Linked DNA regions of Homo sapiens: region 2 is linked to region 1. The links come from fine-mapping of genetic effects on gene expression. A gene starts in region 1. The other region holds a variant in brackets. All regions are shown on one strand. Distances are from middle to middle.

What was found.
Region 2: its variant is fine-mapped to the expression of XRCC2 in whole blood (INTERVAL, PIP above 0.99).

Annotation. Positions count from the first base shown.
Region 1 is chr7:152,672,821-152,681,488 of GRCh38, forward strand. It overlaps XRCC2 (X-ray repair cross complementing 2), which reads right to left and starts at 3,321. Exons shown (of 3, transcript NM_005431.2): 1 at 3,221-3,321. The coding sequence starts at 3,259. RefSeq lists silencers at 2,708-2,797, 3,098-3,567 and an enhancer at 2,798-3,642.
Region 2 is chr7:152,635,998-152,644,665 of GRCh38, forward strand. No RefSeq gene overlaps it. Among named protein-coding and RNA genes, the nearest start is that of XRCC2, 36 kb to the right of the region's middle. The variant T/C (reference allele first, on the strand shown) is at 4,564.

The sequences.
Region 1 (8,668 bases):
ATGCTGTGCATAGCAACCAAAACTGGACAGACACTTCCAATTTTTTATTTACCAATTATTTTAAAATTCAAGGCATATTAGCATTCTTGAAAAAATGCAAAGTACACCATTATTTAACAACTGTATTCAAATGAAGCCATTTGGTGGATGATACCAAAATACTGCCCAAATCACTGGATCTTTTCTCACAATCTCAGTGAGATATAAAAGTAAAAATCCTATTGCTACTGTGCAAAGGGAAAAATGGATTGTTCTATTGTAAACTGTAGTCAAATGCTTGTCTTTTTTAAATCAAGGGCACATATGTTTTCCACTCTCCACCTGGCTTACCATAAACTTCATCCCTAGAATCTGCTAAAAAAATATATATTCTTTTTTTTGAGACAGAGTTTTGCTCTGTCACCCAGGCTGGAGTGCAGTGGCGTGATGTCGGCTCACTGAAACCCCCGCCTCCCGGGTTCAAGCAGTTCTCTTCCTTCACCCTCCCAAGTAGCTGGGATTACAGGCGCCCACCACCACACCCAGCTAATTTTTTTTATTTTTAGTAGAGACAGGGTTTCTCTCTAACTCCTGACCTCAGGTGATCTGCCCACCTCAACCTCCCAAAGTGTTGGGATTACGGGCATGAGCCACTGCACCCAGCCTAAAAAAATATTCTTACAACTTTATTTTCTTGAAGACCCCCATATGAAATGTCTTTTCCTTGATACTCACAAGAAAGATTAACTATTTTATTAGGTTCTAATTCTAGTGAATTTTAAAGCAGGCCAGGCGTGGTGGCTCATGCCTGTAATCCCAGCACTTTGGGAGGCTTAGGCAGGCGGATCATGAGGTCAGGAGTTTAAGACCAGCCTGGCCAACATAGTGAAACCCGGTCTCTGCTAAAAAATAAAAATAAAAAATAAATTAGCCGGGCATGGTGGCGTGCACCTGTAGTCCCAGCTACTCGGGAGGCTGAGGCAGGAGAATTGCTGGAACCCGGGAGGCAGAGGTTACAGTGAGCCAAGATCGCGCCACTGCACTCCAGCCTGGGCGACAGAGTGAGACTCTTGTCTCAAAAAAAACCAAAAATTTAAAGTAGTTTATTTCAGTTTCTTGGGTTAGCTTATGGCTTCAGATATATTCCTCAACACAATCCCTCCAAGTAAATTCAAAGTAGATGAATGTGCAAAGAAGCTAGAGTTCAAACAAATTTGGCAGTGGCCACATAGTTCCCAAGACACTTAAAGGGAAAGAGACTGGCTTAACTGGTTTTGTTAATAAAAAGGAAAATAGAGCAGCGCCAATTGCCTAGCTTCCTATTCACCATTCCACCCCACTCCACTCCAGAGTAGTATGAGCTAGGCTTAGGATTGCCACACAGACAAGGCAGGCAAAGGATATGATGTTAAATTCTTTGTTCCATGACTTAACTGTGCTAGACTCTCATTTTTTGGATACAAGGCTTGTTCTGATTGCAAAAATCATCGGACCTTAACCTGGGTTTCAAATAATCATTTAAATATAAGGTTTTGGCCGGGCGCAGTGGCTCACACCTGTAATCCCAGCACTCTGGGAGGCTGAGGCGGATCACCTGAGGTCAGGAGTTCGAAACTAGCCTCGCCAACACGGCGAAACCCTGTCTCTACTAAAAATACAAAAGTTAGCTGGGTGTGGTGGCGTGTGCCTGTAATCCCAGCTACTTGGGAGGCTGAGGCAGGACAATCGCTTGAACCCGGGAGGCGGAAGTTGCAGTGAGCTGAGATGGCACCATTGCACTCCAGCCTGGGCAACAGAGCGAGAGTTCATCTCAAAAAAATATATATTTATATATAAAAAATATGTTTATATGTATTATATACTTTCTATATAATCTATATTATAAATATATTTTTAAATATATATTTATATAATATATTTTTAAATATATATTATATATAAATATATTTTTAAATATATATTATATATAAATATATTTTTAAATATATATATATCTATGGTTTATAACTGTAGCCGTTCTTATACTAAGCAGTGGTTCTACTCTTTAGGAACAGGGATTATCAAACTATGGCCAGCAGGCTAAATCCAAAAAACAAAGCTTTATTGGAACGCTGCCATGTGCCTTTATTTATCTATGACTGCCTTCCCATTAGAACAGCAGAGTTGAGTGGCTGTGACAGAAACGGCATGGCCTGCAAAGCCTAAATATTTACCACATGGCCCTCCACAAAAATGTTTGCTGACTCTTTTGAGATTGCTTCCTCTCTCATCTGCATAAAAGATCCTTCATACCCTGCCCACTGCTCAGCGCTTACTTCCCAACCTATTGTCCCTCACTCCCTTTGTTCCAATTTTACAGAAATACTTGCAGTTATCTAAATTAGCCATGCTCTTGCTTAATTCAGAATCCATGTACTCCCGACTGTCTCCGCTCTGAATGTCATCCTCTCCTTGCCAAACCATTTCAAATGGTCCTTGAAACTTCAGTCATCTCCTCCTGCATCTTCCATGATGCCCGCCCCTCTAATGGACAACAAACTTTTGTGCAATACTGTAATTCTTACAGCAGCCTCCCTTACTAGTTCTTTAATGGCAGAAGTTATGTCTTTTGTTGCTTACTCCTATCCCTTAACACGTAGTTGACACACAGTAAGTGCTGGACACTTGGTTCAATTCTTGAGGGGCATCCACCGGCTTGTGTGGCTCTGGAGCTACCTGGGCTGGAAACGAATACTAGGGGGTGGCGAGGGCCAGCTGCCCTAAGCAGAGACACGTGGGCTACAGGGAGGTGAGGCAACCTCCGCAAACACCACCTGTTCCAGAAAAGCTCCAAATGCTCCAACGGGCGACCCCTCCCCTTTTCTAGCTTTTCTTGCATAGCTTGACATTTCCAACGGTAGTTAATTTGTGAGGGGTTTTTAGACCATAACTCTTGGGAGGAGAGACCTCGTATGTTATATCGATCTGGGCAGGCAGCAAGTCTTCCAAAGAAAGACTTCCTCCACCTCCGCCCGGTCCTCCCACCTCGGAGGACTCCAGGCTGCCCAGGGGCGGACCCCTGGGGCCCAGGTGAGAGGTGGCAGAGGGTGCCAGCATCGCGGGCGTCTAGGCCGAGAGGCCGGTCCCAGCCCGGCCAGGCCGCGCCGCCCCAAGCCTCCCAATCCCCCGGGTTCCCTCGGCTCCCCTCGCCCACCGGCGGCCTTGTTCCCATCTCCCTCACTCCCAACCCGGCGGCTCTCACCTCGGTCCCAGACTCAGCCCTATGGAAGGCACTACACATCGCCCCGAAGGCTCGGCGCAGGAGAGACTCAACTTTCCCGCCACCAACGCCATTCACCAACTGCGCAGACTCTACGGCCAGTCAAACCCGCCCACCCGCGCGCGTGCGCACTGCGCCAGGCCGCGGCCGGGGAGGCGGGAGCATGCGCAATAGGGTGTGCGGGCCTCCCCGCCCCGCCCCCAGTTCCTGTGACGTCAGACTTCCGCGTCCCCCGCGGCGCTCTCCCGCGTCCCCTTGGAGATCGCTCCGGGGTGGCGGGGACAGCTGGTGCTTTTCTTGTCTGTTGTAAACTTTGGTTCGTTATTATTATATTAGGTAAAGCTGGTCTTATGTATTAATTTGTTTAACCATTAAAAATAATTGTATTGCACAAGCAGGCCCCTTTGTCCGTTCTCGGGTTAAAAGCCTCTGGCTGTGTGTGCGATTCATGGTTAATTCTGGAAAAAAAGAGAAAAGTATACTGTATTTAAAAGAATTTTTAAAATATACCGAGCCTGTGGATTTATCAAGTTGCTTTTTGAGGTAGGCAGGAGGATCACTGGAAGTCGGGAGTTCGAGACCAGCCTGGCCAAAATGGTGAAACCCCGTCTACAGTAAAAATACAAAAATTAGCCAGGTGTGGTGGCGCATGCCTGTAATCCCAGCTACTCAGGGAGGCTGAGGCAGGAGAATCGCTTGAACCAGGGAGGCAGAGGTTGCAGTGAGCCGAGATCGCGCCATCACACCTGAGCGGCAGAGCGAGACTCTGTCTCAAAAAAAAAAAAAGACAAAAATTTGGATATAGTAGCATTGGCCATTATTATCAAGATGACAAAATGTTTTCTGGAATGAAAAAGTTTCATGCAAAGATATACTTTTCACCCACCTAGTTTAGTTTTCAAAAACGCTAGGAAAGAGCATATACCAATGAAGTATTTCTCATGGGTAATATTAAAGTTGCTCATTTTGTAAATTGGAATGGTTTTGGTTCCAAGTCACAGAAAACCCAACTCTTACGTCCTGAAACAAATGGGCTTTACCGGGTGACATCACTAGAAGTCCAAAGGTAAGACAGGCTTCAAGGTTAGTTTAATTGAGAGGCTTGATGAGGCAAACAAGTACCTCATTTCTTTTTACCTCAGATTCATGTTTTCTACCTTGGCCTCTTCTCTACGTAGGGCTGCGGGCCCGTATCTGAAACATTAACAACCATCAGGAATGAGGTTGGTCTGGTTAGCTTAGGCCTGAATCGTGTGCCCCACTTACTTTTCTTTTTTTCTTTTTTTTTTTTTTTTTGGAGACGGAGTCTCATTGCACTCTCGCCCAGGCTGGAGTGCAGTGGTACCATCTCGGCTCACTGCAACCTCTGCCTCCCGGGTTCAAGTGATTCTTCTGCCTCAGCCTCCCAAGTATCTGGGACTACAGGCACGTGCCACCACGCCAGGCTAATTTTTGTATTTTTAGTAGAGATGGGGTTTCACCATATTGGCCAGGCTGATCTCGAACTCCTGACCTTGTGATCTGCCTGCCTCGGCCTCCCAAAGTGCTGGGATTACAGGCGTGAGCCACCGCGCCTGGCCCTGTGTGCCCCACTTCTATCCGGAGTAGAGACATATTTTTTCAAAGCACACAGGCCTTGTGGAAAGGTGTGGAGAACAGTAAATGACAACAATAACAACAAATTGTGAATCATTAACAAGAGGAGTGGGAGTGGATGCTTGGGAGGCCACCTCTACCGTCTTTTTTTTTTCTTTTTTCCCTTTCCTATGGTGCTGAACCACCTATATCTTCATTACACCCTCTGTAATGAGGATATGTGTATACCAAACCACATGTGTAGGTCAACCCCCTCGTCCAATTCCACACACTTCTATACAAAGTAAATATTTCCTCACATAGTAAATCAATATTTGAGAAAGGAGACTTTACAATTAAATAGCTGCTCTAGGCTAAATTAGTTTTTCAGTCTCCACACTGTTCCTAATGAAGAAGACATGTCAGCTGAACTAGTTTAGTCCATTAAGTGCACACCTGTTCGTGTGAGTGCAACATGGTTTTGAAATCACTTCAGTTTTAATGCTCCGGAAACATCACTTCTCGTTTAAAAGGATACTTGAAGCGCTCTCACAAACTGCTGGTAGGCATGAAAACATACGGTCTTTTTGGAAAGGAATTTGGCAATATCTTTTTTTTTTTTTTTTTAATTAATAGAGATGGGGTTTCGCCATGTTGCCTAGGCTGGTTTACAACTCCTGGGCTCAAGTGATCCTCCTGCCTCCTAAAGTGCTGGGATTACAGGCATGAGCCACTGCACCTGGCCGATTTTGGCACTATCTAACAAAATGACGCATTTATTAACTTTTTCACTCAGCAATCCTACTTCTAAGAATTTAGCTTGAAGTCATACTTCCAACATTGCAAAAACGTGTATGCAAAAAAAGCATATTGCAGCATGGTTTGTAATTGCAAAATCTTGGAAATGGCCTAAATGTTTATACATAGGAGAGTGGTTGAAAACAATACGGCACTGCCACAAAATGGAGCACTATGCAGCTGCAACAAAGAATGGCCAAGATCTCTATGCATCTGTAAGGAATGATTTCCAGGATATAGTGTTAAGTGAAAAAGGCAAAGAGGAAGGGGTGTCTACAGTTTGCTAGCTTTCTTGTAACAAGGGAGGGGAAAGAAAAAGATACACATGTCTCTGCTCATTTGGGTAAAAAGAAACACAGGAAGAATACATGAGAAGCAAAGAGGATTCTTTATCTACGGAGGGTAGATAAAAATAGGTTGGAAAAAATGGAGGATGAAAATAGGGTAAAAGAGATGGGGTGAGGGACACTTCCCTATGTGTAACTTTTTTTGATAGCTCCAATTTTTTTTTTCTTTTTTTTCTGAGACAGAGTCTTGTTCTGTCACCCAGGCTGGAGTGCAATGGCAGAATCCTGGCTCACTGCAACCTCTGTCTCTGGGTTCAAGTGATTCTCATGCCTCAGCCTCCTCAGTAGCTGGGATTACAGGCACCTGCCACCACGCCTGGCTAATTGTATTTTTGGTAGAGATGGGGTTTCACCATGTTGGTCAGGTTGGTCTGGAACTCATGACCTCAGGTGATCCACCAACCTCGCCATCCCCAAAGTGCCAAGATTACAGGTATGAGCCACCATGACTGGCCAGCTCTAACTTTTAGAAACACATGATGTTTTACCTCCTAAAAAAGAAATCATCAGTGGCTTACGCCTGTAATCCCAGCACTTTGGGAGGCTGAGGCTGGTAGATCACCTGAGGTCAGGAGTTTGAGACTAGCCTGGCAAACATGACAAAATCCTGCCTCTACTAAAAATATAGAAATTAACCGGGTGTGGTGGTGCATGACTGTAATACCAGCTACTCGGGAGGCTGAGACAGGAGAATTGCTTGAACAGGGAGGTGGAGGTTGCAGTGAGCTGAGATCATGCCATTGCACTCCAGCCTGCACAACAGAGTGAGACTCTGTCTCAAAAAAGAAAAAAACAAAACAAAAGCAAGATCATGTCCTTTGCAGGAACATGGACGGAGCTGGAGACCACTATCCTTAGCAAAAAAACGCAAGAACAGAAAACCAAATACCACATGTTGTCACTTATAATTGGGAGCTAAATGATGAGAACTCATGCACGAAAAGAAAGGAACAACACACACTGAGGCCTACTTCAGACTGGAGGGTGGGAGGAGGGAGAGGAGCAGAAAAAATAACTACTGGGTACTAGGCTTAGTACCTGGGTGACGAAGTAATTCCTACAACAAACCCCCATGACATGAGTTTACCTGTATAACAAACCTGCACACGTACCCCTGAACCTAAAATTAAAATGTTTAAAAATTGCCACAGTAGGCCGGGCACAGTGGCTCATGCCTATGGCGCCACTACACTCCAGCCTGGTGACAGAGTGAGACTGTCTAAAAAAAAAAAAAAAAAGAAAAAAAGAAAAACAAATTGCCACAGTAATAGTTTGGAAGAGGAGATTAAGAGTAATCAATTGATACTAAAATTACTGGATAAAAGTATAATTAAAGACAGACTATAGCCTAAAGTATCTCCCTACAAGATACTTGTTAATTACAAAGAAAAGAGTGACCCTGCCATGGAGAAACTTTTTTTTTTTTAAATTGAGACAGAGTTTCGCTCTGTCGCCCAGGCTGGAGTGCAGTGGCGCGATGCAACCTCCACCTCCCGGGTTCAAGAGGTTCTTTTACCTCAGCCTCCCGAGTAGCTGGGACAACAGTCGTGCAACACCACGCCTGGCTAATTTTTGTATTTTTAGTAGCAACCAAGTTTCACCATATTGTCCAGGCTGGTCTTGAATTCCTGACCTCATGATCTGCCCGCCTTGGCCTCCCAAAGTGCTGGAATTACAGGCGTGAGCCACCGTGCTCGGCCGCCCAGCTAATTTTTTTGTATTTTTAGTAGAGACGGGATTTCACCATGTTGGCCAGACTGGTCTTGAACTCCTGACTTCAGGTGATCCACCCACCTCAGCCTCCCAAAGTGCTGGGGTTACAGGTGTGAGGCACCATGCCCTGCACCATGGAGAAACCTATTAAACATCACCTTAACCAAGTGATCCAACTTAACATCACCTGTAATGAGAAAAATAGGTATCACGTGCCTCCTAATACAGTGCACTGGGAAGAACACAGCATCCTTTCTGTGGTATTCCCACCGAAAATGCATAACCCAAATCTAATCATGCACAAACATTACACAAACCCAAACTGAGGTACATTATATTCTAGAATATAACCAACCAGTATTATTTTAAAAATCTAGATTAAAAAAACGAAAACAAAAACGTGGCTGGGCACAGTGGCTCCCGCCTGTAAGACCAGCACTTTGAGAGACTGAGATGGGTGGATCACCTGTTGTCAGGAGTTCAAGACCAGCCTGGCCAACATGGTGAAACCCCGTCTCTACTAAAAATACAAACATTAGCCAGGCATGGTGGCAGGTGCCTGTAATCCCAGCTACTCCACAGGCTGAGACAGGAGAATCGCTTGACCCTGGGAGATGGAGGTTGCAGTGAGCAGAGATTATGACACTGCACTCCACCCTGTGCAACACAGTGAGATTCCATCTCAAACAAAAGACTGAGGAACTATTCCAGATTAAGGGTGACTAAAGAGGCATGACACCTATATATTAATATAATGTGTGATCCTGAACTGGATTCTGAACCAGAAAAATACATTAGTGAGACAGTTGGTAAAAGCTGAATATGTCTGTTATTTATTTATTTATTTTCTGGAGACAGGGTCTTTGTTACCCAGGTTGGAGTGCAGTGGTACCATCTAGGCTCACTGTAACTTCTGCATCCTGGGCTCAAGTGATTCTCATGCCTCAGCCTCCTAAGTAGCTGGGATTACAGGCGTGCACCACCACACCTGGCTAGT
Region 2 (8,668 bases), 37 kb before region 1:
CACAGGTAGAATCATGGAGCTTTATTTTTGTATTTTAGAAAATGTATGGTGTGGCCGGGTGCGGTAGCTCATGCCTGTAATCCCAGCACTTTGGGAGGCCAAGGTGGGCAGATCAGCTGAGGTCAGGAGTTTGAGACCAGCCTGGGCAACATGGTGAAACCCCATCTCTACCAAAAAACACAAAAATTAGCTGGACGTGGTGATGCATGCCTGTAGTTCCAGCTACTTGGGAGGCTGAGGCAGGAGAATCACTTGATCCTGGGAGGTAGAGGTTGCAGTGAGCCGAGATCACCCCACTGCACTCCAGCCTGGGCGACAGAGTGAGACTCCATCTCAAAAAACAAAACAAAACAAAAAAATGTATGGTGGGTAGCAAACTGCTGTGATATGTAGATTTTAGTGGATATTTTAAATAAATGTTTTATTTTAAAATGTGAATATGCCATAAATTAAATACTTATAAATGAAAGTTTGAATGTTAAGTCAAAACATGTAAGGGGATACATAATTTTCCAAATTTCTTTTAGCGACTACGTTAGTAGAAAAGAAGCTAGTGATCCTAATTCAGACTCTTTGTTTTATCCATGAGATTAAGCAGCTCACACACAGTCACACGTCCGGTGGGTTACGCCACATCAGCAAGCCCTCAAGGCTCCCGACACCCAACAGCTGCTTGCAGTCACAGGTTCTGTTGTCCATACATTGTAGCCATTTATTTTGATTTTCAGTGCACTATTCACATATACCCTTATGTATGAATACTTTTTATAGCCAAGAATCCATAAGTAATACCCTATAATTTATCTCTGGCATAAGTTAGATTTTTATATAGAAGATTTAAATAGACAAACCGGTATTTGGTAATCTGTATTTTGTTTTAAGTAAGATTAAGCGTATCACCCTATAAATCATCATTACCCCAATGTGAGCTTGGAGAGGTAGAAATGACGTGAGAGGTCAGTCAGTCAGAAATACAGAAGAATCAACTTCGGCACAGTAAATTATCCCCAAAAAGCTTTCAGGAAATTCTGAATCATATTTGAAATGTTAAAGGCATGAATTATATGACTATCCATAAATATTTCTGAATCTTTAAAAAAGATCCTTTAAGAAACTTCAAAATAAATGAATGGAATCCAATAATTTAAAACTCAAGTGCTGTTATTTCTACAAGATCTTGGATTATATGTTCATTTGTTCATTGGAAGAAAAATCACATTTTCATTTCTTATATTTTATTTATATTAGAAAGAGCACTTCAATATTAATTCAAATATCTATCCATTAAATGCAAAAATGTTAATGCAATATTAAAAATGAAATTTAAATGAAAGCAAGGGAATATCACATTAAGGTTCCCATGGCAACCCTCACTACACTTCTCAGCTTCTGAATTGTAATATGGTCATTTATTACTGGCTCATATAAAATATAATTTTGCAAATATTTAAAGATGTATAGGTTAATTCGTGTCAATTCAAGCCTTCAGATGCAATATAATATAATACATTAGGCTAAGAATACTCCAAATATTAACCCATATTCATAATTTAGATATATCTATATAAAACAGATGCAAACTTCCTAAATTTTGAATGATTTGTTAGCACTCACATGAATCATACCATTTTGCAGTTCCCATCACAGCTGAAATCTGAGCCTTATGTTACTGAAATACTAATATAGGTATAGTCAAGCGACTGTCTCACTTTAGAAAGAATTTGAAATTACAAATGTCAGATTTTGCCAGAATAGGCAAAATGTAAATTCATTACCTCATATAAATCAAAAGTCCAAGAATTGAGTTTTGCAGATCAAATGATTCTGCCCGAGACCTGTTTATCATTGGCCTCACTTTTTTCTACCTTTAGTGGTACGTATTAACGTGTTGAAAACTCAAAAAAGTAAACATCCTTTAACCAAGAAGTATATCTCTTTATTTATCTAAAGGAAATAATTGGGTAACTGCCAAGCTGTGTCTGTAAGGATTTAGGAAAAAATATAAACAATTGAAATGCCCATCAACAGGAGTGGGTTAAGCAAAGTATGATGTACAGAGCTTTGAAAATGATTGGATCGATATATTGATATGGAAAGATGTCCAAAACCCATTGTTAAGTGAACAAAGCAAATAAAGAACAGTATGTCCAGCAAAGAAAAAACAACAAAAAGCCAAAACACTCCCTCAAGGACAATGTGGGCCACATGCAGTGGCTCACACCTGTAATCCAGCACTTTGGGAGGCCGAGGTGGGAAGATGACTTGAGGTCAGGATTTTGAGACCAGCCTGGGCAAAAAGCGAGACTCTCTCTCTACAAAAAAATTTAAAAAATTAGCCAGGTGTGGTAGTGTGTGCCTGCAGTCACGGCTGCTCGGGAAGCTGAGGTGGGAGGAACACTTGAGCCAAGATTGCGCCATTGCACTCCAGCCTGGGTGACAGACTGAGACCCTATCTCTAAAAAAAAAAAAAAGAACAATGTATAGAGACTCATCTGGAATGATACACTCCAAATGATAATGGTGGAGATCTTTGGATGGTGAGATCACGGCTTTTTATTTTATTTTTCCAAATTTTTTTCAAATGAATATAATCAGAAAATAAAGCTTGAAGACAATATAAGTACTGCCTGCTGTTATGAGTGTGAAAATACTGATACTCTCCTCCTCTGAGGGTAGGAGCATAAGTTGATATAAATATTCTTGCAAATTTTTTTTTTTTTGAGACAGAGTCTCACTCTGTCACCCAAGCTGGAGTGCAGTGGTGCCATCTCAGCTCATTGCGGCCTCCCTGGGTTCAAGTGATTCTTGTGCCTCAATCTCCCAAGTATCTGGAATTACAGGCATGTACCACCATCCCCAGCTAATTTTTGTATTGTCAGTAGAGTCAGGGTTTCACCATGTCAGCCAGGCTGGTCTCGAACTCCTGACCTCAAGTGATCCGCCTGCCTTGGCCTCCCAAAGTGCTGGGATTACAGGCGTGAGCCACTGCGCCCAGCTGATTTTTTTTTTTTTTTTTTTAATCAGACAAGATCTCACTCTGTTACCCAGGCTTGAGTGCAGCAGCCTGATCATGACTCCCTGCAGTCTTGACTTCCCAGGCTCAAGCGATCCTCCCCTCTGAGCCTCCCGAGTAGCTGGGACCACAGGCATGCACCACCATACCTGGGTAATTTTTAAATTTTTGTAGAGGCCAGGCGCAGTGGCTCATGCCTGTGATTCCAGCACTTTGGGAGGCCAAGGTGGGTGGATCACCGGAGGTCAGGAGTTGGAGACCAGCCTGGCCAACATAGTGAAACCCCACCTCTACTAAAAATACAGAAATTAGCTGGGCGTGGCGGCTTGTGCCTGTAGTCCCAGCTACTCAGGAGGCTAAGGCAGGAGAATCTCTTGAACCTGGGAGGCAGAGGTTGCAGTGAGCTGAGATCGGGCCACTGCACTCCAGCCTGGGTGACAGAGCGAGACTCTATTTCAAAAATAAATAAATAAATAAATAAATAAATAAATAAATAATTTTTTTGTAGAGATGGGGGTCTCACTATATTGCTCAGGCTGGTCTTGAACTCCTGGACTCAAGCATCCTCCTGCCTTGGCCTCCCAAAGTGCTAGGATTACAGGCGTGAGCCACTGTGCCCAGTTTGGGATGTTCGATAACATTAAAAAATTGCAGAAAAATTGTATAATTCTTGTAAACTTTTTAAATTTTTTTACTTCTATAATTCTATTTTCAAAAAACAAACAAATTGAAAGCCACTCAAATATTTCAAGAGTGATTAAATAATTACATATTTATTCCATAAGAGGAAATACGATGTACTCATTAAAAATCATAAAATATTTCTGTGGGTCAATACCATTGCAATTCCGTCAAATCAAGATGATTTTAACTACAAGGAATAGAAAATGCAGTCAGCTTAAATGATAAAACTTCTGGATAAACACTGCAGTTGAACATGCTTGTTAACCAGTAATTCCTCCTGAAACCTACTAAAATCACAGGAAAGGGGAAAAAAGCATAAACCCATAAAGACAAAAAAAAAGAAAAAAGGAGGGAAGACAATAGCAATTCCCCCTCTTTTTAAAATAGGGTGGTTTCCAGAACCAGAATAGGCTCATCGGCTCAGAGTTTCCCTCATTCCAATTAAAAAAATTTTTAAAAATTGTTTATTTTCTGTATTTTGTTGAAACATTCCAATATTTATTTATTTATTTATTCTGAGACAGAGTCTCGCATGTTGCCCCAGCTGGAGTGCAGTGGCACAAGCTCAGCTCACCGCAACCTCTTTCTCCTGGGTTCAAGCGATTCTCCTGCCTCAGCCTCCTGAGTAGCTGGGATTACAGGTGTCCACTACCACGCCCGGCTAATTTTTTGTATTTGTAGTAGAGACGGGGTTTCACTATATTGGCCAGGCTGGTCTCAAACTGCTGACCAAAGTACTGGGATTACAGGCGTGAACCACCGACCCTGGCTGAAACATTCCAATAGTTAAAGCTGGTAAAGTTGGGTAGGTCTGTGGACATAACAGAGCAGATGCTGTGAAAGCAAAGCAGAGAACTGGGCGTACT[T/C]GGAAGCGGAAGTGCGGTGGGACCGAAAGGGAGAAGGTGGACGCGTCTAAGAAACCAAAGTCTACTTTCCCTCCCACATCCAACCATGAAGCTTTTTACAAAATGTGGAGGCCAGAACACCCTATTTGTATGTGTGTGTATGTTATGATTATTGTAATATGTGATGAGTTATGAGGAATATTAAAAAAAGAACTCGATGAACTGACTGGAACATTCCCAAATAGCACGCTGCTGGTCCCCTGCTTTTCTTCTAATTTTAGCATATATTGTTTAGTTTTGTTTTTGAACCTTATTTTAAAAGGCATCTCCACACGAAGACTTGTAAATTGATATTCATTGCAGCATTAATCAAAATAGCCCCAAATTGGAGACAATCCAAATATCCATCCATTGACGTTGGATTTTTAAAAAGTGTCATATTTGTGCAATGGAATATTATACAGCTATAAGGACTAAACTGGCTGGGTGCGGTGACTCACTCCTGTAATCCCAGCACTTTGGAAGGCTGAGGTGTGTGGATCACTTGAGCCCAGGAGTTCAAGACCAGCCTCCGTAACGTGGCAAAACCCCATCTCTGCAAAAAATACAAAAATTAGCTAGGTGTGGAGGCACATGCCTGTAATTTCCAGCTACTCAGGAGGCCGAGAGGCAGGAGAATTGCTTAAGCCCAGGAGGCGGAGGTTGTGGTGAGCTGAGATAGCACCATTGCACTTCAGCCTGGGTGACAGAGTGAGACCCTGTCTCAAAAAAAAAAAAAAAAAAAAAAAAAAGGAATAAACTATTGACATATATTATGACATGGATGAATCTTGAAAACATACTAAGTGAAAGAAGACTCGGACCACAGAGTATATGATTGTATGTATTTGAAATGTCCATAGCAGGCAAATGCAGACAGAAAACAGTTTAGGATATTACCAGGAGCTGGGGAAGAGAAGGGCATGAGGAATGACTACTAAGTGGTATGGGGTTTCTTTTCTTTCTGGGGTGATGACAATGTTCTAAAATTAAATGGTCGCAGAACTTGGAGTTGACTAAAACCACCAAATAGTATACTTTAATAGAGCAAATCGTATAGTATGTGAGTTATGTCTTTTTTTTTTTTTTTTTTTGAGATGAAGTCTTGCTCTTGTCCCCAAGGCTGGAGTGTGGTGGCGCGATCTCAGCTCACTGCAACCTCTGCCTTCCAGGTTCAAGTTATTCTCCTGCCTCAGCCTCCCGAGTAGCTGGGATTACAGGTATGCACCACCATGCCCACCTAATTTTGTATTTTTACTAGAGATGGAGTTTCACCATATTGGTCAGGCTGGTCTCAAACTCGTGACCTCAGGCAATCCACCCACCTTGGCCTCCCAAAGTGCTGGGATTACAGGCATGAGCCACGGTGCCTGGCCGAAGGTATTATTTTAAAAGGTATTATATTGAAGGTATTCCTTTGTAATGTTCTTTAAGAAAAAGCAGACTCCACCCTCAGTCCCTTCCTCTCCCTGCCCAACCCCACCCCTTCCTTAGCCTCTGAAAAAAAAGAAAAAGTAAAAAAAAAAAAAAAAAAAAGAGAAAATTCGGGATTACGTTTGTATGATTTATTTCCTGTTTATGCATCCGACAGTAGTGCATTCATTTTTAATGCTGTCGGGTGCTTCCTTGTATGAATATGCCACCATTTGTTTATCCATTCTGTTGTGAATGGATGTTTGAGTTGATTCTGGCTTTTGTTGTTATGAATAATGCTAATATAAATATATTTATACATCTTTCCTGACACACATGAGCAAGAATCTCTCAAGGATATATGCCACGTTGAAGGGTATTATGTGTATTTAACTTTGAAAAATAATGCCAAACCAGGCGTGGTGGCTCATGCCTGTAATCCCAGCACTTTGGGAGGTCGAGGCAGGCGGATTACAAGGTCAAGAGATCGAGACCATCCTGGCCAACATGGTGAAACCCCATCTCTACTAAAAATACAAAAATTTGCTGGGTGTGGTGGCAGGTGCCTGTAATCCCAGTTACTCAGGAGGCTGAGGCAGGAAAATCGCTTGAACCCGGGAGGCGGAGGTTGCGGTGAGCCGAGATCACGCCACTGCACTCCAGCCTGGCGTCAGAGCGAGACTCTGTCTCAAAAGAAAAAAAAAAAGAAAGAAAAATAATGCCAAGTTCGTTTTCCAGGTGCTTGCACTTCTTTGGTTTGACTTTGCCAGCAGCACAGAGTTGGCATTATTTGTTGCACATCTTCTTCGCGACTCGGTAATGTCAGCCTTTAAATTTCTGTCATCCAAGTGTGCGTGAAATGACACCTTACTGAACTCTTAATTTGTATTTGCAATTACCAATGAGATTGAACATCATTTCATGTTTTTTGACCAGTCCTGTTTCTTTTCTGTGAAATGCCCCTGAATATCCTTTGCCCATTTTTCTACTTATTTTGTCTTGATTTATGTATACGTACATATTTGTGTGCACATATATACACACTTATGAGTATACACACTACATTTTGGTTTTAATATTAAACGTGTTGTTCGCATGGGTTGCAAATATACTCTGTTTGTAGCTTCTCTTTTTGCTTTGTTGATGGAATCTTTGATGAGTAAAAATTATAAGTACTGATGTAATACAGTTTTCAGTTGCATCTTTTTCCATCATGTATCATCCATCCTTGTTACAAGGATTTGAATAGTCCATCCTTTCCACAATGATTTGCTGCTTCTGAAATATGCTAAAGTCCATACGTGTGGGTTTGTTCTGAAGCTCTATATTCTGTTCTACTTGTGTATCCTTTTACCAATAGCATACTCTCACTTTAGCGACAATTTTTTTTTTTTTTTGAGACGGAGTCTTGCTCTGTCGCCCAGGCTGGAGTGCAGTGGTGTGATCTCGGCTTAGTGCAACTTCCGCCTCCCGGGTTCAAGCAATTCTCCTGCCTCAGCCTCCGTAGTAGCTGGGACTACAGGCGTGCGCCACCATGCCCAGCTAATTTTTGTATTTTTAGTAGAGACGGGGGTTTCACTATGTTGGCCAGAATGGTCTTGATCTCTTGACCTCGTGATCCGCCCACCTTGGCATCCCAAAGTGCTGGGATTACAGGCCTGAGCCACCATGCCTGGCCTTAACTACATATCCTTACATCGAATAGGGTAAGTTCCCCTACATCAGCCTCCTTTAAGAACACTTAGCAGCCAGGCTGGGTGCAATGGCTCACACCTGTAATCCCAGCACTTTGGGAGGCCGAGGCAGGCAGATCACTTGTGGTCAGGAGTTCAAGACCATCCTGGCTAACATGGTGAAACCCCGTCTCTAGTAAAAATACAAAAATTAGCCGGGCGTGCTGGCATGCGTCTGTAATCGCAGCTACTCGGGAGGCTGAGGCAGGAGAATTGCTTGAACCCAGGAGGCAGAGGTTGCAGTGAGCTGAGATCGTGCCATTGCACTCCAGCCTGGGCGAAGAAGCAAGCCTCTGGAAGAAAGAAAGAGAGAGAGAGAGAGAGAAGAAAGAACACTTAGCTCGGATCTCCCTTTGAAAGTGAGTTATCTGACAGCGTCCAGCTAAAGTGCCTTTTGCTCTGCCACAGTATATGAGCTGAGGTCATGTGCTCCTCATGAATACTTCTGCCCAGTGAGGGTGTCCTCCAGACAATCTTTGCATAGGAGTTCCCTGGTGGACAGGCCAAGACTTTCTTTGAGCTGTGCTGTCAGTCTGAAGTTCTTCCTCCCAATTCTTCCTGCCTCCTTCCTTCCACCGGTGTCAGGCCCTAAGGTTTTCCCTGCCTCATTCTGCCCCCTCTTGTCTTTCACCTCTTATGCTCCTGACATCATTTTTGCAGCTGCCTCCTGGCGGACCTGAGCGGATACAAGGGGCTCCAGGATTCCTGGCTCCTCGCTGTACTAAATTTAAGAATCAGTTCCAAAATGAAGCAAAACAAAAATAGTTTTGTTGGGATTTTGACAGTAATTGCATTGGATCAATTGCTCAGTCGCAAAACTGACATCTTTATATTAATGACACTGAGTCTCTCAATCACAAACATGCTACTTCTCTCCATTTATTTAGGGGTTCTTTAACCCTTTTTCCCATTTGTCCTGAGAATACTCACCGGCAGTGCTT